Regions from separate parts of the Homo sapiens genome. Here region 2 is linked to region 1. Evidence: fine-mapped expression QTL. A gene starts in region 1. The other region holds a variant in brackets. All regions are shown on one strand. Distances are from middle to middle.

What was found. PIP is the estimated chance that this variant, and not a neighbour inherited with it, causes the effect.
Region 2: its variant is fine-mapped to the expression of RCHY1 in non-classical monocytes (Schmiedel 2018, PIP 0.95).

The regions. Positions count from the first base shown.
Region 1 is chr4:75,508,924-75,520,112 of GRCh38, reverse strand. RCHY1 (ring finger and CHY zinc finger domain containing 1) reads left to right here and starts at 5,710. Exons shown (of 9, transcript NM_015436.4): 1 at 5,710-5,916; 2 at 10,817-10,936; 3 at 11,178-11,189. The coding sequence starts at 5,827. It overlaps THAP6 (THAP domain containing 6), which reads right to left and starts at 5,640. Exons shown (of 5, transcript NM_144721.6): 1 at 5,593-5,640; 2 at 4,581-4,680; 3 at 3,134-3,341. The coding sequence starts at 4,660. RefSeq lists enhancers at 4,945-5,164, 4,740-5,670, 5,505-5,984, 5,671-6,601.
Region 2 is chr4:75,477,731-75,488,919 of GRCh38, reverse strand. RCHY1 (ring finger and CHY zinc finger domain containing 1) reads left to right here. Exons shown (of 9, transcript NM_015436.4): 9 at 6,254-9,887. The coding sequence ends at 6,382. Among named protein-coding and RNA genes, the nearest start is that of RCHY1, 31 kb to the left of the region's middle. The variant G/TG (reference allele first, on the strand shown) is at 6,036.

The DNA.
Region 1 (11,189 bases):
GCCAAAAAACACATGAAAAAATGCTCACCATCACTGGCCATCAGAGAAATGCAAATCAAAACCACAATGAGATACCATCTCACACCAGTTAGAATGGCAATCATTAAAAAGTCAGGAAACAACAGGTGCTGGAGAGGATGTGGAGAAATAGGAACACTTTGACACTGTTGGTGGGACTGTAAACTAGTTCAACCATTGTGGAAGTCAGTGTGGCGACTCCTCAGGGATCTAGAACTAGAAATACCATTTGACCCAGCCATCCCATTACTGGGTATATACCCAAAGGACTATAAATCATGCTGCTATAAAGACACATGCACACGTATGTTTATTGCGGCATTATTCACAATAGCAAAGACTTGGAACCAAGCCAAATGTCCAACAATGATAGACTGGATTAAGAAAATGTGGCACATATACACCATGGAATACTATGCAGCCATAAAAAACGATGAGTTCATGTCCTTTGTAGGGACATGGATGAAACTGGAAATCATCATTCTCAGTAAACTATCGCAAGAACAAAAAACCAAACACCGCGTATTCTCACTCACAGGTGGGAAATGAACAATGAGATCACATGGACACAGGAAGGGGAATATCACACTCTGGGGACTGTGGTGGGGTCGGGGGAGGGGGGAAGGATAGCATTGGGAGATATACCTAATGCTAGATGATGAGTTACTGGGTGCAGCGCACCAGCATGGCACATGTATACATATGTAACTAACCTGCACAATGTGCACATGTACCCTAAAACTTAAAGCATAATTAAAAAAAAAAAAAAGATGTGCCCCAAAATGTTCAGAGCTGCACAATTTATAATAACCCCAGTGTGAAAAACTACCCAAACATTTATCAATAGTAGAATGAAGAAATTGTACAATGCAATACCATACAGCAAAGAAAATTAATGGACCAGTATCTCATGCTACAATGTGGATGAATCATACAAGATGTTGAGCTAAAGAAGCCAGAGTACATACTGTAGACAGGACTCCATGTATATAATTGACAGTGATAAAGTCAAGACAGTAGTGACTGGGAAAGCATGTGAGGGAGGCTTCTGGGTCACTTGCAATGTTTTATATCTTGGTCTGAGGGGAGTGACATGAGTGTACCCACTTTGTGAAAACTCATTGATTTGTACACTTACAAGCACTCTTCCACAAATATATTTTACTTCAACATAAAGTTTAGTTAAAAAAAAGTGATGTTCTACATAGGTTTCTCTTAAACATGTGATCCATAGATCTGCAGCACAAACAGATTGGGATGCTTTTTTAGAAAGTACACTCCAATTTACTGAATCTAATTCTCTGGAAGATGTAGGATTCTGTATTTTAAACAAACTCACTGGATAATCCTTACGTAGACTAAAGTTTGAAAGCTACGGTGTAGGAAAATATTTAATGTCATGGAGAGTAGTAGTTAATAGTAGACTCTGAAGTCAAAATGCCTGGGATCAAATCTAGCCTCTGCCATTTAATAGAGGTGTGACCCTGGGAAGGGCATTCTAGTTCTCTGGGCCTCAGTTTTCTCAAGTGATAAAATGAAAATAATAATAGTATTTACCTGACATGGTTCTTTCAAGGACTGAGTTAATAGACATGTAAAGTACTTGGAATAGTGCCTGGCACATAGTACACACTATTTTAAAAAACCCAATAAAGCAAATAAAGGAAAAGGTATACAGTATAATTCTATTTCCAGAAGATTATCTATATAAGTATAGATGCATATTTACGGATAATTACAAAGATACAGATCAAAGTGTTCACAGTATTATCTATGGATTATGTGATTATTTTATTTTTGCTCCTATAATCTTATTTTCTAAAATGAAAAATTTATTTGTTATAAGAAAATCAATAGTTTTTGAAAGTTGGTAACTTATGGTTTATTTGATTTATTATGCCCATATTTCTTAAGGTCCCCTTAACATTACGGCTAGATGACACCTTGGTGGTAGGAAAAAAAACAAAAGCCCTAGACCAACTTTCCCAAGATACTGTATATTTATTAGCACCGAAGAAAGTGAGGCATTCTCTACCTGATCACTCAGGTTCTACAATATGACCAACTGCAGAAAGTGACCAGGACTGCATGGGAGCGGGTACGCTTTTGGCTACTTCTCTTGTTTTTAGTTGCCAGGAAGGAGATCCCTTTCAATGGAGGCTCTCCCTGAATTTTCCACATTGGAATCAATCAATCAATGTCTATAGGTTCTAGAAATTCACTTTCAGGTATACAAAGTCAAGAGAGATACTGAGGGTGAGGCAGCCAACCCATGGGAATATTACCCAGAAAAAACATGGAATTCAATTAGCGTTTACTTATTTGACTGTTCTTTCTTTTCCTGACCTTTTCTTCTCCTGTTCTTAGATCTCTTTTTTGGTTTTCTTCCTTTTGATCCTACCTAGACTTTATGCTTGCATGTATGTGGCTCTTACAAGTACTTTAGTCCTGTTAGTGGTTCTACTCCTGACTTCTGCCCCAGTGTTAAGGACTGCCAACTTGGAACATCAGTTCAACCTTCTTACGTTAACTTCCATTTTTAGACAAAAATCTTCAGTTATGCTAATTCCTAAAGTCAGCCCACTTCATCAAACCTTAGTAATATACAAATATTTATGAGTGGTTACTGGTAAAATACTCCTACTACACATTACAAAAGTTGAAGATGCAGTCTACAAATTTAAAACTTCAAGAACAGACTTCAAATGAATAAGCAAACAATAAAAATGTTAGCAAGAGTGGTGAAGGTTCTTCAATAGTATCATAAAAAGTGAGCAATGGCCAGGCACGGTGGCTCATGCCTGTAATCCCAGCACTTTGGGACGCCGAGGAGGGTGGATCACGAGGTCAGGAGTTCAAGACCAGCCTGGCCAAGATGGTGAAACGCCATCTCTCCTAAAAATACAAAAATTAGCCAGGTGTGGTGGCAGGTGCCTGTAATCCCAGCTTCTCGGGAGGCTGAGGCAGAGAATTGCTTAAACCCTGGAGGCAGAGATTGCAGTGAGCTGAGATCGCGCCACTGCACTCCAGCCTTGGTGACAGAGCGAGACTCTATCTCAAAAAAAAAAAAAAAAAAAAGTGAGCAATGATGGTAAACAGTATCTCATAAACAAACCTGTAGGTGATATGGAGAATCAAAGATAGAAGGTATGACTCCAGGTTTCAGTTTAATATTTGGAGCACTTCTGTCAAAATCTGTCTTCTTAAAGTGCCTCGAACACAACACATCTCCTTTTTTAGGCTCCCAAATGCCGGCTGCATTCACATCAAGTCTTTTCATTGCTAATACCCATTTCCTTTTGATGTTTTCATCTGTGGGGAATCTAGAAAAAAAATACAAAAAATATTTTAAAATCAAATACTATTGCTATATAATTGAATTAAAGCTGCCTTATACAACTGTGACTAAATTGATTCGTTAACTAGTTTATTAGTCTTGAGAATTATAATATTTAGGAAACCATAATTCATGCTTTTGTTACTTTCCGTTTTAATATTCAGATTTTCTGCCAATCATGCTGCAGATATATGGCCCTCATTTCATTTTTTCTCACATTATAAGGAAGAAAAGTTTCAATGGATATTTAGCATCTTATAGTAAGATCCACAATTGAAGGTATTTATTCATCTATAGATGATAAAAGAATTATCACTTGGGCCTTTTCCTATCTGAAATGATATCCAGAATTTATCCTCGATAAAAAGGGCCCCTTGTAATTCCATTCTTCTGTCAGCACCAGAAAATTGCTTAGTACAGCATTTAATACATAGCAGGTCTACAGATGCTTAGTGAATGAATGCAGAGAATAGCTGCAGTGTGGAGTTCTGGAGATCAGAGCTATTTTGAGAGATATGAAGGCCTAATAGCCATATCTTACTCAATTTTCAAGCTGGTTCAAATTTTTCTAAAATAAGGTAGGATATATATGCTCAGTTTTGATTTATTATATCTAACAAAATAGCTAGGAGATCTTTCTCTAACACATAGGACAGTGCCTGGCACAAAAGCAGCAAAATAAACCTTTAACAAGTGAACAACTATTAAATCTTATTACTCCTTCACTTACTCCTTCATGGCTGTCAAGAGAATGGCTAAAATATGAAACTAAAATCATTTTGATTTATTTGCAACACAGCTAAAGATCCCTTGGTCTTAACTTGTAATTTGTATTTTTTCTCTATAACCTATGCTTGATCTACTTCTAAATAGAGAGGGCAATATATTCGAGCAAAGCTCCTTCATTCAGATTGTAAACTACATGTAAACAACATTGAATTTCTTTGGCGGTGTGATAAAATACAAAGTAATAATATTAGCAAAAGTTAGCCTTATGGTATTTTTTGTAAACCAGTCTCTGATATCTTAAAGTCTCTGATATCTTAAAACTTTTAAACTAAATTATAAACATGTAAAGGTATCACATTGTCACTTCAAATTTAACAAAAAGGTTATTTAAAAAGGACTCGGGAACTAAAGTTCAAAATTGAAGACTTAAGTAGAACTGTCTTTTGCTTTTTATAACATGGCCAAAGTATTTGGCTTAACTACAGCAAAATCTTACACGTGAAATGTCAGTCCTTTTAACTTCGAATTTGGCAAGCAGCGAGAAGCACATCCAATGGCGGAGCAGCATTTCACCATTTTAGCAACTCATAACAAAACTGAAAGAAAATTAGAATGTTAAGAGTTAGTAACCGGAAAGCTGAAGGGGAATATTTTCCCTTTCCCGGTGTTTTAGGAAACACAAAATCAGGATAGAAAGCTAAAGACAAATATCTTCTTCTAACACCTGCAGCTTTGCTTACATCATTTTCCAGGGCCTTGACTCTTTAATAAGGAGAAACATATTTAGCTGTGTACCCCGAGTATGATTTCAATTTTGTTGGCTTGTACATTTTCCTTCCACCTTCTAACAGGTACCATGTTCTTTGTGCCACAAAGCCTTTTGCACACTAACTCCTACCCATCTTTCAGCCCTCGGCTTGCATCGCTTCCCCAGGGAAGCCTTCCCTCACTGACACTCAGATTGTCAGAGCTGCTCTAATATTAGCTCTCACAGGACACACACTTCTTCCTAGCACTTCTCCAGGTTGTAATCTTACATTTATTGCAGTGATTGCTCTTATTAATGTCTTCCTCCTCCACCAGTCTTGTTAGTTCCATGAGGTCATGGTGGAGTGTGTCTATTTTTCCTTACTTTTTGTCCTCACGGTTTAGCTGGTGACTGGCAATAGTGAATGTCAGTACATATTTTGAAAGAACAGCAAGTAAACGGGAAAGGGAGGAAGCAAGAAGCACTTCGAGGTGCCAGCGAGCACCCTGGCGTCCAAGAGCAGCGCGCGGGACCCGCTGAGCCCAGGGCCCGGGCCGAGCTCCGCCCCTTTCTCCAGGCTCCCCGCCACCGGAGGGAGAGAGGGAGGACCCGTCACAGGTAACGATGCGCCCAGTGAGCGTCCTTTCCTCTGGGGCCAACCAGCGTCTCCGCGCCGCTGCCGCCAACCTCGCGCCGAACTACGCCCTGAGATTTGGGCGGGTAGCGATTGGGGGAAAACAGGCAACCTAAGAGTTATTACCGTTAGCAGCGAAGACTGCGACTAACGTCAACGACGGAGACTGCGTCTGCCTTCGCTTCCGCCTCGTAGCCCCGGGAACCGGAAATCCGTCTGCCCCGGGTCACGTGCTTAGGAGCCATATTGTCGCTAGTGGCCGCTGGGGCTGGGAGGGGTGTGCTAGAGAGGCGCAGCTTCTCTGGGCGTGGTTTTTATCCTGGGGGAAGGATCGGTGGAATGTGAGGGGAGGTGGAGGAGATGGCGGCGACGGCCCGGGAAGATGGCGCCAGCGGTCAAGAGCGAGGTCAGCGGGGCTGCGAGCACTATGACAGAGGATGTCTCCTAAAGGTGACGCCTTCTATGGACTCTTCCCTGACAAGCTTCCGTCAGGTTGGGCTGGGGCGGGCTGGGCAGGTGGTTAGGCTTGGATTTAAGTTTGAGGTTAACCTGATTTTCAGGATACCTTTTCCACCTGGAACTGGGTTCTTCTTGAGGAGAACGTTTTTGGCAAGGCGATAAGCCCCACCTTTCCTACCTGCTTCGTACCTTTAAAGCAAAACCCTTCTTGGGAAGTGATTAGGCTTGCACAGTGGTCTCTGCCAGTGGGCTTATTCGTCTTTTGCTGCCGAAGTAGACTGAGGCAGCCCCGGGCCTGTACTGGGGTTTTCCGTTCAGGTGTGTGATGAAATAATGGAAGTGGAGATAATGGAAATAAGCAAGTGGAGAACCCGAATACGATTTCAGCTCCTGTGGTAAAGTTTTATAGCCTGCCAGCTTCATGTTAAAGGCAGTGCACATGTTCAGACGTAGGAGAAAACGTGTGTCCCAAAAAAGAAGACAATCATGTAATTGCCATTAAATAGGAAATTATGCATAGGAAAGTGCCTAATAAGCATGTATTGTTACTCTGAGAAAACTTCTTAATCTGTATTTTTTTTTAAATTGGCACGTATTCAATTGAAGTTTCCTGATTTTCCTTGCAAGAAACAGTACAAAAATTTTGCTTAGAAAACTTGAGCTTTGGAACCTCAACCGCCCTATCCCCAAATCTTAGCTCTCCTCTTTAATAACTGATTTTAGCTAGCTCCTCTCTACCCCGTATGTAAAATGGAGATGATCGCGCCTGTTTCATAAAAGTGTATGAGGATTATATACTAAAGGGCGTGTATAGTGTTTAACAGGGCGCATTCCCTGAAGTAAATGAGTAGTAAATATATACCACCATGACTGTTACTATCATCGTCAATCTGAGTATTATTATTTTTTGTTCTTTCACTTCACAAGTCAGCCTTGCTGGTCACTGCCTCATTATTAGAAGCAAGTTCAAGTCTCAGGCCTGTACGTGCATCCTAAACTCTTTTCTATAGGTCATGGCTTGACGAACATTGCTCCACTGAACTGGATGAAGCTCCTTAAAAATGTTGGTCATCCACCAAGTGTTGTGTAAGGAAATTGAATGCTATCCTTATGATTCAATTTCTACTGAGATGTATTATTATTCTTTCAAACTTGAGGTCTAAAACGGAATTTAACATCTTGGTGCCCCCCATAAACCACACAATTAGATCTGTGTATCATAGCACTAAGATACTTCGCCCTAGGTGTCAAACAGTTTTTGCCTTCCCCCGCCCCCCCCCCCCCCTTAAATACCAGAGGCCAAGTGAAGTATTTCAAGGAGGATGTGGTCAGCTGGGTCAAATGCAGCTGTTTGAGTAAGATAACTGAGAATTGCCCTTTGGATTTGGCAAGGAAGAGGTCACTGGTGATCTTGACAAGAGGAGTTTTAGTGGAGAGATCAGGATTAGAGTGAATTTAGGAAAGAATGGGAGGAGTGGAATTGAAAATAGCACTTATAGGGTATTCTTGGGGTTTAGCTGTAAAGGGGAGCAAAAAAAAGATGTGGTTGCTGGGAGATCTGGCACCATATTTTTTCCTCTTTAAGAGAGGAAGTATTACAGCATGTTTGTATATTCTAGGAAATGATACAATAGAGTGAGAACGTTTTATAATGCAGGAGAGAGTGAGAAAACTGTAAGGGCATTGTCCCTGAGTAGCCAAAGGGGATGAAATCCAGTGCACAAGTGAAGGAGTTGGCCTTAGAAACATAGACTGTCAGTTCTTCCTAAGGGAAGGCAGAGAATGAGGTATATTTGCAAGTAAGTTAATAGAGATAATAGGAGGATGTTCTTTTCAGGCCTGTCAGCAGGAAGTATGTTTACTGTTTTTATAGTGAAATAAGGTCATCAGCAGAGTGTTAAGGAGGAAGAGTTGTTAGAGTTTTAAAGCCAGAGGAGAAGAAGTGAAATGATCATCTAAATCTTAGGTCTTAGACTCTGGAAGAATGAGAGAATTGACCAGGGAAACGTGGTAGTAAGTGTCCACCTCATATGAACCAGCAAGGACGGTGATGCTTTTTCTCTAGCCATATTCACCTGCTTCTGATAGAAGTCAAATAGGATTTAACTAGGGTTGGGATTGTTATCTATGAGTGTAGAGGAACTGAGAAGGGAACTAGGGTGTTGCAAGGGGAGACTTGGAGTAAGTTAGGGAGGAGGTAATGGTTAGAGAATTTCATGCTTGGAATTGAGATGCAAAGAGGGTGCCGTTGTTCTGTAGCATTGGTTTTCAAAGTGTGGTGAATGGAACCCTGGGGATTCCTGAAGTCCTTTCAGGGGCTCTGCAAGGCCAAAACTACTTTCTATGAACACTAAGATATTTGTTTTTTTTTTTTTTCAGTCTGTTGACACACGCATTGATGGTGGAAAAGCACTGTTTAGTATTGCTAGTATCTTAGCTTGAATCAAGACAGTGGCACTGAACTATACTACACCTATAGTTTTTTTAAAAAGCCAGCTTCACTTAAAAATGTTGATAAAGCAGTAAAATCGTTAATTTTAACCAAATCTCAACCCTTGAATATATCTTTTAATATGCTGTTCAATGACATGGGAAGTTTTGATCAAACACTTCTGCAAACTGAAATTAGAGGGTTGTCTTGAGGAAAAGCTCTTGTGCAAATTGGATTGTAAAGTGAACTAGTTGCTTTTTTTCATGGAACAGCATTTTTTACTTGAAAAAATTGTAGTCATTCACATTTGGGTAGTTGGCAGACATTTTCTCAAAAAGGAGAAAAGTGAGACTCACTACAAATGAAAATGACAGTATTTGTTGCCAGTGATAAAATTCAAGCTTTCACACAAAAATTAGAATTTTGGAAAACTTTTACTAGCTTTTGTGAGGTTGGAAGCTTTTTAAAAGACTTTTTTTGGTGAGATTTTCTTCAATACCTAAAGACTTTTAATGAATATGATTTTTTGATATTGCATGTTAAATGTGTGAACATTTAGAAGATGTAAATAACTCACTGAACTGGTATTCTCCAGATGACCAATGCATGAGTAAAACATCCATTTGAAGTGCAAGATAGAGCAATAGATTTTAATGTAACCAAGGAAGAAAAGAGGCATCATATCAATCATATTCCTTGATACGATTTCAGATTTCATGTTGCAACTACCCTTTAAGAGTTGTTGTTCTAGTGTAATATCAGAGAATGATATCCATAATTCTCCAAAAAGGCTATTAAAATACTCCTTTCTTTTCCAGTGTACATATTTGTGTGAGGCCAGAGTTTCTTTTTGTACTTCAGCCACAACTGTTTGAATGCATAAGCAGATAGAAGAATTCAGCTGTTTGGGGGGAAAAATATAGTTATTTTTCATTAAAACATGTTATTTATGTTAACAAGTAATGAGTTTGTTACTTTTAAAAAGAAGTAATATTTTAAAAACCTATTCTTTTTAATTTATGATGTGGTATATGTCAATAGATAAAATCCACATAAACCAAAGCTCTTTGGGATTCTCAGTAATTTTAAAAAGTGTGAAGGGATCCTGAGACCAAACCATTTGAGAACTACTGTTCTGCGGTATAACTATGAGAATAGTGGGTTGGAGGACAAGGTTATTGGAAATGACAAAGTTAAGGAACTGAGAGTTGCAGAAAAAGGAAGCCAGTTAAGTGTTAAAATCTTTAAGGAATGAACTACGTTATGGTAAGTCAAGGCATAGGAAGCCTTCAGAAATGAGTGGATCTGCAAGGTCACAGTGTATTGGAAAGTCACTGGCCTGGAAATCTCTTGATATACTTGTAATGGTAAAGTTGCTGTAATGAAAAAACCCAACAGTGATGTAGATTAAAGAGTAAAGGTTTTATTTCTTTCCATTTAACAATTCCAAGGCGAGTGATGCAGGTTGGTGATGAGGCTTTGCTCCACATGGTCACTCCAGGGATGAGATTTTTCTGTTGTATCATTTTGTCATGTTTTAGGGCATGTGGCCATCTGTCTGATATAGCTGAACAATTGTGCCCAGGAAGGAGAGGATAGATTTTGGTGGACAACTGGCAGTCTTTGCCGTGTTTGAAAACAAGGGCTGTCTCTTACATTTGTTGCATTTTGTGCAATATTAGATATGAGGTTGATGATTAATAAAAGCTAGTAAAATAAGAATATAATCTTTATTATTTTTAATGTAAATGAATTTATCTGGAAATGTCTAAGAAGAGGTTGCCTGTTTGCTGTTTAGGCTCAGAATGAAATTGGGGTGTTATATTAGTCTGTTTTCACACTGCTGATAAAGACATACCCAAGACTGGGAAGAAAAAGAGGTTTAATTGGACTTACAGTTCCACATGGCTAGGGAGGCCTGAGAATCATGGCGGGAGACAAAAGGCACTTCTTACATGGTGGTGGCAATAGAAAATGAGGAAGAAGCAAAAGTGGAAACTCCTGATAAACCCATCAGATCTCATGAGATTTTATTCATTATCACGAGAATGGCACGGGAGAGTCTGGCCCCCATGATTCAGTTACCTCCTTCTAAGTCCCTCCCACAACACGTGGGAATTCTGGGAGATACATTTCAAGTTGAGATTTGGGTGGGAACACAGCCAAAGCATATCAGGTGTTGTGGGATTAGTGTTTCAATCTAGGGATTTCCTTCATAATTCTTTTGTTTTAAAGTTGTGTTCAACTTCATACAGACGTAGTGATGTTGAAGGGAAGAATTAACATAAAATATGCCAAGAAACTAGTGAAATGTTATGTTTAGGATCAGTTTAGCAACTGATCTATTGGTTGTAATCTTTCAGTTCCATCCAGGAGGAGGAGGAAGAAATTTTCTTTTTGTATTGCACACTTAGTTTCTTTTGCTTCTTACTATATCTCTTTTTTCTCCGTGGGTGTTAGGCACCTTGCTGTGACAAGCTTTATACTTGCCGCTTGTGTCATGATAACAATGAAGATCATCAACTAGATCGCTTTAAAGTGAAGGAAGTGCAGTGCATAAACTGTGAAAAAATTCAACATGTAAGATTTTATGACATTTCTATTTTCTTTTTAAAAGCTGTATTAAGGTGGTTTGAAAAAATTTAATCAAAAGTATCATAAATAAGATTTCTTTAACTTCTAGAATAAGCAATATCTTTGGTTTAGGTGTTTCAAAACTTATAAAAATAAACTGCATATAGTTGAACATAAGTTCTAGATATTCAAATGGTAACTCAAAATGTTTAGTTTATTGCAGTTTTTAATTATGTTTCTTTTTTAGGCCCAACAGACT
Region 2 (11,189 bases), 31 kb after region 1:
TATTTTTAGTAGAGTCGGTGTTTCGCCATGTTGGCCAGGCTGGTCTTGAACTCCTGACCTCGTGATCCACCCGCCTCGGTCTCCCAAAGTGCTGGGATTATAGGAGTGATGAGCCACCTTGCCTGGCTGGAATGCAGAACTTTTAATAATGGAAGCTTTAAGGATTTAGGAAGGGCCAGGTGGCTGTCCAGGTTCTCCATGAGTCCATGCTTAACATTGGATTTGTGTCCTCTTAAATACCAGGTTAGGTGCCTACCACTGATAACTGAAGGGTTATTATAGGTAATTTGACTTGGATTGTGGAATTGATTGAAATCTAAACAATTTCAGTACTGGCTGCTTTAGTGTGAAAATCTGGCAAAGTATTTTCTTGGTATTCAATCAATTTTTATCCTGCTTGGGTTGGCAGTTTTATAAACCAGTCAGTCTCTCCATTAGAGTTCTAGGAATTGTTATCCAGTCCAAGTCCTAAAGTTGTCAGAAGTCTATATTTAAGAGAGTTTGTCAGGGTCCTTTTCATCCTTTCATGAACCTCCTTGAAGACACAGTACTGTAGGATTTTGCTTGCTTGTCTAGTTTTCAGAGAAACTGCATCAGAATTAAGCAGTTAACTGTGGAAACAACTTAAAATGGTTATAGTTAAAGACATGATTGACAAGGAAATTTGGTTATTTCTGTGGCCTGCAATAACACAGTAACCATAATTAAGACTGATAGCATATACCCCGACATAAAGAATTTTAGAATCTCATATAATTTTGGAATAAATCTTAATAAAAATATAACACAAAGGTTAAATATCATTTCTTATTTGACAGTGCTTCCTATGTAATTTAACAGATCAAATAATCATTTTTTTCTCTTTTGAATACCGCAGGGGCCCTTTGTAGCATGCCAAAGTTAGAGGTAAAAAAAAAAGACTTAATTTTGAAGTTGAAATTTGATTTTGGGAAGCTTGTCAAGTGTGTCGAAGATTTAAAATACTTGACCAAAATAGGATCACATTTATATATATGAATATATATATGAATATATATATTATGAATATATATTATGAATATATATATTATGAATATATATTATGAATATATATATTATGAATATATATTATGAATATATATATGAATATATATATTATGAATATATATATGAATATATATATTATGAATATATATATGAATATATATTATGAATATATATATGAATATATATTATGAATATATATATGAATATATATATTATGAATATATATGAATATATATATTATGAATATATATGAATATATATATTATGAATATATATATTATGAATATATATGAATATATATTATGAATATATATATGAATATATATATTATGAATATATTATGAATATATATATTATGAATATATTATGAATATATATATTATGAATATATATATTATGAATATATATGACTATATATATTGTGAATATATATATGACTATATATATATTTATATATAGTCATTTATATAGCCAATATGAGAATTAACAGGTTTTAAAAAGCAAAAACCTTTACTCTTCGAAACTCAGTTTTCTAAACAATTAAAAGTCCTGAGACAGCGTGAGACAAAATCTGTTTCCCCTTGTCTCCTCTTTTTATTGTTTGAAATTTACCCAAAAGTAAACAAAAATATTTAACTGTCTTATTAATACTACATGAAATCTTTGTTCAAGAGAGAAAACCAGATTTTACTTTTGTATTGTTAGGACTAAAGCGAATTTTAATAAAACCTTGTAAACAAATCCATCCAATCTGTCAGTTTTTTACCACGTAAGATTTCCATAAATCTTTTATATTCCCTTATAAACTTTTAAAATTCTTTCTTTTGAACGTTCTGTATTTTAATCTACACTTTTTTATTCCTTCAATTTGAAACAACCGTTAAGTAACTTCAAACTAGACCAAAATTTTTTTTTTAGACGGAGTCTTTCTCTGTCACCCAGGCTGGAGTACAGTGGAGCAATCTTGGCTCACTGCAACCTCTGCCTCCAGGGTTTAAGCAATTCTTCTGCCTCAGCCTCCCGAGTAGCTGGGACTACAAGCGCACACCACTACGCCTGGCTAATTTTTGTACTTTTAGTAGAGACGGGGTTTCACTGTATTGGCCAGGCTGGTCTCAAACTCCTGACCTTGTGATCTACCCGCCTTGGCCTCCTTGGCCTCCTGAAGCTGAATTTTTTTAAATACATGCCTTTGCAACTTGTCTTACCAAAAGTATATCTTGCTTGTTTTTACACTCCTTATAGGGAATTGTTTTTCTTACATCTAGTAGTTTTAATTACATATATTAACTACAGTTTTAACTCTTAGTAATCCTAATTTCCAGTGAAAACCCTAGGAAGTAATTTTGAACTGTTTTGTATCAGTATTTATAGATGGAAGCCATTTTAATTTTTTGGAAGGATGTTTCCTTAAATTATTATTTATTAAGATATCTAAATATATTTAGTTTTTCTATACTATATAAAAATAAGATGCCAAAGTATATAAACTTAAACTTATAATTAATGTTTTAGCATTTTAACTTATAAATGACTTAAAAGTTTTATGATTATTTACTTAAACATATGACTATAAGATTTTAAATTACTGAAAAAAAATTTGAAATTAGGACACAGATGTACCCTCCCGAATGTTTTCTCAGTCATCTTGAGTCTCAAGTAGTCATATGTCAACCAGGAGGGCTATGAAGGGCAGAGCCTGTCTGAGTCCTGAATTTACGTACCACTTACAGAGCTTTGAACAGAAGACAGAGCTGTAAAGATGATGCTTGGAGGATGGAACCCCTCCTAGAATAGCCAGGAGGCAAAGCTAAGACAGGGAAGAAGAAGCTCTAGTGGGCTTGATTCTGCTTTGTAGCTACAGGTCTAGGCACTGAGAACATGTACCCAGGTCTCACCTAGCCAGACTTGAGAATCTAGAGGTTCAAAACCCAAAACAAGCTCACAGTCAAATCAAGCAAGTGTTGAATTATATTCAACAGACACCTCTGAAGCCATTCCTATTTACTAACAATATAAAAACTGGCTTTATTTACCAAATGTTATCACATACACATAACACCTATAGGAATACAGACACAGACAGAAGCAGATCTTAGAGCTTTCCTAAAGGATTCTCATTTGCTGGCTTTTAAATAGTTTTTCTATTCACCATTCAGACTATCAGTTTACCAATTAACCTGTTTCATTGCCCTAAGCAATTGTTAGCTAGGCAGCCCTAAATATGCATTTCTAAAGGGCCAATTCTTAGGTCAAACAAGGTAGAAAATGTATATCTCAAAAGCACACAGCTAAGACTTTAGACGTAAATATTGTACCATCATTTGCTCAAACCAAGGAAAAAATGGTGTGAGTAAAAGTTAAGACAAGATGGCCAGTCACCTTAAACAAAGGTATGACTTACTATATAAATTTAAAATAGTGATAAGAGTTCCTAATGTACACAGACACCTTTACAAATGTAAATTTCCTTTATAGATATAAATTGATTTTACCAAAAGGGTTTCAGGATAGCCTTCAGTATAGCCAGTTGAATGCCAGAAAGGTATACTTTAGTTCCATAGATCGTTTTTAAAAATTTAACTACTGTTTCTTAGCTAAAATTACTGAGTTCAGGGTGGAGCCCACTAAGACAGTAGGGGAAAGACAGCGTTCTTTTTTATTGTTTGCAGTTTACTCAGAAATTAAACAGAAGTATCTTAGTGTCCATGTCCATGCCTGGGCACAGTATGGATAGATCTGAAAAAGAGGCAAGTCAGCTTTACCTAAGGGCCTATATTTTATAAACATTTAATCCAGGCTAGCTTTCTTTTAGCCTTCAGGGCAGTATAGTAACTAAGCCAAAAGGCTAGTAGATTTAATTTGTCTTATCAGTTAGTTAAGCTTTTTATTTGCCTTTTAAAACATCTTTTTTTTAAGGCAATAAAAATATTGAAATATTTTTAGAAGCTTCACTCAATAGGCATTCTTAGATGAGTCTAATTTGGGAGCCCTCATTTTCAAATGCACTTTTTTTTTTGGTTTGGTTTTTAACAGCTTATGGCCATCATCAAATGCACTTCTTAAAGTGTAGTTTTAAGTGTTCATTTGGGACGTTCCATTATAATTTTAAATTACTTTTAGTAAGGTTTTGCCATTTCTATAAGCAAATGGCATTTTATCCTTCTATAAAATGTTTAAAAAGTGCTGCTTCTGGGGCCTAATACTTACACTTGTAAATGTAGGCAGAGCCAGAAGGTAGATTGCTCAGTTCTTCAGAAATTAAGGATCCCATTTTCACCTTGAATCTTGGCTTTGGCTCTCATATTTCCTTGGTAAACTTAACCAGTGATTTTTCTCTACTTAAATGTGCAAGAAGAAGAATTGAAGAGGGCAGGACACAAAAAACCCTGTGAATTTCCAAAAGCCAAAATTTGCACCCCCACCCCCTGCTGTTTTGCCATTTACTGTGCTTCTGCCCGACCCAGTCAGGCATAAGAGGTCTTTAGCTAGATCCAAGGCAGTTGGATCCTGGACCCAGTCCAGTTTTTGTTGCGACTTCTGAATTCAGTTCAGATAGAAAATGTGTTCAAAAAAACTTGGATAGCTCAAAACACAAATGCGCAGAGCTTTAGAATCTGAGAACTTACCATGATTCCTAATGGCTGCAAGAGAGCAGTGGACACAAAGGGCCTAACGGTACCTTACTGGGTCCCCTTGGTGCTCCTGGCGGTCACTGAAAGCTGTACTTCAAATCCCACTTCTGATGCCAGCTGTTTGAAGCAAAACCTTACACAAATTAAATTTAACAGAACTTAATTGAGAAACAGTTTGTGAATCAGGCAGCCCTGAACCAGAATAGATTCAGAGGGTCTTGACTTTCTTTATTTGGTTGCAATTAGCTTGCAACCTAAAGCATAAAAGGTTGTTTCTGTGCCTTTTGGCTTATGGAGAGTGATCATCTTTTTTCGTTTAATTAAGATGTGTTGCTGTCTCTTCTCAGCCATACATGGTATTGAGTTTTAGATTAGAATGGGAAAGCCTAGTATTCTGGCTAGATAATTTTTGGTTATATTACACATTTTCTGAACATCTTCAGATACTTCAGCATACGAGGATAAAAACCACGTAGCAAAGCCAAATGAAAATTATTTTTTGTTTTATTTACACTGGAGTGTTTCATAATTCATGTGGATAATTGTTAGGGCAATGAAAAATCACTTTTGGAATACTAACCGATAATCATGTGATTGACTAGAGGCCGAAGTGTGCTATGTTCCATGTAGATAATTTTTGGAAATAATGGCTTCATTAAGATACAATTCACATATTATATAGTTCATTCATTTAAATTGTACAATTTGGTGCTTTTTAAAATATTCATGTAGTTATGCAAACATCACCACAATTTTAGAACATTTTTATCATCCCAAAAAGGAAACACTCATACCCATTAGCAGTCATTCCCTAACGCCCCAGGCCTAGGCAACCACTAATCCACTTTCTCCATTTAGATCATATTTTTTAAATAATTATTTTCCAAATTATAATTTAGAGCAAATTTGGAAATTTTCTGCTTATTATAGTGTGACTATTCAAAAACTAGTGCTTTTCTTGCATAGTAATGTATTGATTTTCAGGTTAACACCTTTGTTATTTTTCAGGTTCTTACTTAGCACTAGAAGAAATTAATTCTTAAACGGCATCTTATTGTTATTGTAGGGATGAGCGAAGAGCCTCTCTGTTTACTCAATTTTAGGAACACTCTTTTTGGAATTTAATTCATTCCTAAGGCAGAGAAGACAGGGAACAGTATACTAAACCTAAAAAATAAGCAAAAATATTATTTGTGTAAAAATTTTGGTTTTATTAATTGAGATACATTTCTGACTGAAAAATAATGAAATCATGTTGTTATTTTGAATTATAAGTATCAGGTATTCATCTGATTATGCCTAGGTTAATTTTCTTGCTTGTACTATTTATACTATTTAATATTTGGAAACTATTTTAAAATAAGCTTTTTTTTT[G/TG]CTCAAATCTGCCTTTTCATTTTCTGAATTCAGAGCCACCTTAATAGCTTTTTAGAGTTTTCAGTGAAAAAATAAGAAGAAATTTCTACTTTTGGAAATTTTTAGACTTATGTATGTATTTTCACATCTTTAATATGATTTTCAAGGGATTATGAGTAGACAATGCTACTTGTATTTATAAGGTTTAAAATACTTAATTTGAATTAATCTCTTTTCAGATTCTCTGCAATGACTGTAATGGACGATCCACTGTTCAGTTTCATATATTAGGCATGAAATGTAAGATTTGTGAATCCTATAATACTGCTCAAGCTGGAGGACGTAGAATTTCACTGGATCAGCAATGACGAGCCTACACAGTACTGGAGAACTTGGCATTTTCTGATATAGAAAAAGGCTTTCCTTGGTATCGTGTTATCATGTGTCGTCATCTATGCATTAGAGTTGATGTGTTTTGTACTAGTGTCACAGCATAAAATCATATTACAAGTACGTAAGGATTCAGGGTCTCTTGATAGACTTATCATAGCTCTATATTGAATGAAAGCCACTGTGCTTGTGTTTTGATTGGAAATTCCTTTAGTGTCAGTTTTTTGGAAGCCAATGATGTTTGCCACTGATACATTCATAGAAGTGTATTATATTTTCATGAAGCTTTGCTTTAAGTGACACTACGCGTGCAGTTCATTTCTAGTTCTTGATAGAACTGCACTTAATTTTCAGTAGTAGTCTTGACTTTTTAAGGGCTGTGTTATATTAAGTTCTCCCTTACTGTTAAAACCTAATTAAATATGCTTTAGAATTTTCTAAGACAGTCCTCTGGATCCTCTAAATGTGAATTTTGATGTAATAACTGCTAATAAAATTATATTGAAACTGTTTTATAGAAAGTTTTTTCCAAAGTTTTCTATGTTTGGCTCAATTAGGGCAGTATCATCAGTTCTATAATGTAAAAGAAATTTTCTTTCTTTTGAGGTATTCCATAAAAGTAGTTGGGAAAATTATTATGTAAAATAATAAGACTCTTCCAAAGCCTTAATAAAAACATCAACATTGAAAACAGTTTTTTTTAGGTTGCCCAAAATTATTTCTTCAAAGAGTCATTCATTCCTTCATTTAGCAAGTATTTATTGAGCAACTGCTATGTGGCAGATATGTTTCTAGATGCTGTAGAGACAACAGTGAACAATAAAGATAAAAGTCCTTGTCCTCACAGCAGTACATTCTATTGTTCATCATATTTGATCAATGTACTCATTTTTCTTTATGCAAGGAGTGGATGTCTTATTGTAAATGAATAGAATATTTCTTCCCTAAGCGTGTGAAAATAGGGGATGGATGAGTGGGAAGGGCATGGGATATTCCTGGCAAGATCTCTGATTTCATAATACTTTTTTGGGCTCATGTAGTGGAATTAAATATACCTCTTACTTCAGGAACAAAGTTAACAAATATGTTTGATGATCCAGCCGACTTTGACACTGTTATCTCCGTAATAGCTTTACCATTAGGCTAGGATGTAAAATGTACATTTATCAGTTGATAAGTACCTATTGAGCACCAGTTGTATTTCCAACTTTGAGCTATTTGAATCTTCTTTGAATAAGGAAGTTAGCCTTTTAACTAGAAAGCCTAAGAGTTCTGGCACATTTATTTCTTCTTTTGTTGAAATTTATTCACCTAGATAAAGGCAGCAGTTTGGGACTCAGATCTTTATTTTATCCCACCTTCTTGTCTTCTGTATTCCACTCTTCTTATGTTCTTTCCCTTCATCTGTTTCCTTGGCCTGGCCAGAGCAGCAGTGCTGATCTTCATTTGGGAAAGGATGTTCCTGGGTATTACCAATTAGTATACAGATAAGTAAAGACTAGTTTTCCAGATCTAATACTTTTTTTTGAAGTGGTTTTGCTCTGTCATTTAGGCTAGAGTGTAGTGAAGTGATCGTAGCTCACTGCAGCCTTGACTTCCTGGGCTGAACTGATCCTTCCACCTCAGCCTCCTGAGTAGCTGGGACTACAGGTGTGTGCCACCATGCCCAGCTAATTTTTAATTGTTTTGTAGAAACAAAGTCCAGGCTGGTCTTGAACTCCTGGGCTCAAGCATTTCTCCTACCTCGGCCTTCCAAGGGCTAGGATTACAGGCATGAGCCACTGTGCTTGGTCCAGATGTATTACTTTTTATGTTTGGTATTATTCTGCCAAACCAATCATGTTATTGTTTTTAATCATTGAATCATTGGATCTTTAAATAGGAGTGAGTATATAATAATAAGGCTCTTCTGTTTTCAACATCTGTGCTGGGTCATGCATTAGCATTAATTACTACAATGATTCTGTGGGGTAAGTGTTGTCCTCATAGACAAGAAAGCTGAGGTTTAGAGGTTAAAATGACACATTGGGGGTAAATAACAGACACTATATGTTGGAGTTGGGAATCAGATCCAAGTTTGACTCCAAACCCACTTTTACCACATTGCTTTTGATCTAAACTTCTATTTTGCTAAAATACCCCTCACAGCTAGTCATCCATATCATTGAAGCGCTCATGATTTGATAGATTAACCTTTCATTTTTTTAGGTGACTCTAGTTAGAAAGTCTTATTTCACAATCTGATTGTTTCTTTAACTTAGGATCCAAACATGTCCAAAATAATGCAGAGTACATATGCAATCACTCGTTTATGCTGTCTAGTCATGCACTTAAAGCAATTTTCAAATGTACTCAAAGTCTCTAGGCTTCGGTACCCAGGGTTGCTTCAAGTATTTGTTCATGACACGTCAACTCGATGATTAAAATCCTTCAACACTTCTCATTCACAATAAGAATAAAATCTACATCCCTTACCATTCAGTATGCAAAACTTAAAATACATAACTTTACCCTTAAATATTTTTTCTTTCTCTGACTTCATAAGTATAGGTTATACCTCTATAAGAAAGAAGGTAAAAAACTCTCAACAATCCCTTCTTTCAGAGAGAACTACTGTTAACATTTTAACAGACAACTTCATTCTTTTCCTATTCTTTTTTATAATGCTTACAGGAATGTTAAATACTTAGACAGATCTTAAGTACACTAGAATTATCTGTCCCTGAAATAAGTTAGGTTGCCCTGCCGCAGAATTTGTATCTATAGTTTATTTGGATTATTTTTGAAAAAAGTAAAATAACAATACCCTTACGAATTTTTTGGTGCATAGCATCTCAGCTTCTTTTATCATTAAAGATGTATGTATAAAAAAAAAATGAGTGTATATCAAGTTGTTCATTTCTTAGTTTCTGGGGTCTTCTTAACCAGTACATAGAACTCTTTATGAATTAACTTTAGCTTATGTTGGAAGTAGTAGTTTGTTTATAGTGTCATGGATTTTAAAATCAAACTCAGTTTTTATTTCTTCACTAAAACCTATTTTCATATGATATACATGTTAAATTTCCCTTTTATTTTGGTCATGCATCAAAATAAATTTACTAAGTACTAAAGAGCCAACATTATTTTATAAGTGCCTGGCAATAGGTATTCACTAGTTGAATAGTTTAATTTGAAATGAATTAATTTTAAATGGGAGTTGTTCAAAACTATGCCACTTTTTCTTTTGTCCTTTGTGTTATTAAAATTTAATTGATAATTGTGTATATTATATATATGGAGTACAATGTGATGTTTTGATATATGTTTACAGTGTAGAATGATTAAATCAATGTAATAAATTTATTGCCTCATACCATTTTTTGTGGTAAAAAAACCACTTAAAATCTACTCTTAATATTTTTGAAATGTACAATGCATTATTTATTATACTCACCATTCTGTGTAATAGATCAGTAAAGTTTATTCCTCTTGTCTAACTGATATTTTGTACCCTTTGATCAGCATCTCCCCTTTTCCCATCCACTTCTCTCTCCCAGCCTCTGGTAACCACCATTCTACTTCTATGAATTCACCTTTTTTTTAGATTGCACAGATAGCTGAGATCACATAGTATTTACCTTTTTGTGCCTGGGTTATTTCATTTAGTATAATGTCTTCCAGGTTCCTGTCACAAGTGACAGGATTTCTTTCTTTTATAGGGCTGAATAGTATTCCATTGAGTATATATGCCACATTTTGTTTTCATTCATATGATGATGGACATTAAGATTGCTTCCATATCTTAGCTGTTGTGAATAATGCTGCAGTGAACGTGGTGGTACAGATACCTCTTTGACACACTGACTTCAGTTCCTTTAGCTATATGTCCAGAAGTGGGATTGCTGGATCATATGGTAATTCTATTTTTAGTTTTCTGTCTCCATGCTGATTTTAATATTGGCTGTTTTAATTTACATTCCCAACGTCAGTGCACAAGTGTTCCCTTTTTTCTACACCCTGTCAACACTTTTATCATTTTGATAATAGTAATTCTAACAGGTGTAAGGTGATACCTTGTGTTAATTTGCATTTTTCTGATTAGTGATGATGAGCATCTTTTCATATATTTGTTGGCCATTTGTGTCTTTTTTAGGAATATCTGTTTACATCCTTTGCCCATGTTTTAATTGAGTTCATTTTCTTATTAGTGGCTTCAGTACCTTATGTATTTTGGATATTAGCCCCTTATCAGATGTATGATTTATAAATATTTTCTTCGAATTCATGGGTTGTCTCTTCATTCTATCATTCACTTCACTATGCAGAAGCTTTTTAGTTTGATGCAGCGCCATGTATTTTTTGTTGTCTGTGTTCTTGGGGTTATATCCAAGAAATCTTTGCCCATACCAGTGTTATGGAGCATTTCCCCTGTGTTTTGTTCATGTAGTTTTATAGTTTCAGGTCTTATGTTTAAGTCTTTAAACCATTTTGAGTTGATTTTTATATGTGGTGTGAGATAAGGATCCAGTTTCATTCTTCTGCATGTGTATATTCAGTTTTACCAACACCATTTATTGAAGAGACTGGCTTCATTGTGTAGTGTTGGCATATTTATTGAAAGCCAATTGACTATAGGTGTGTTGGTTTATTTCTGGGCTCTCCTGTTCCACTAGTCAACATATCTGTTTTTATGCCAGTATCATGCTGTTTTGATTACTATTGTTTTATAATAGATTTTGAAGTCAGGTAGTGTGATGCCTCCAACTTTGTTCTTTATGTTTAAGATTGCTTTGGCTATTCAGG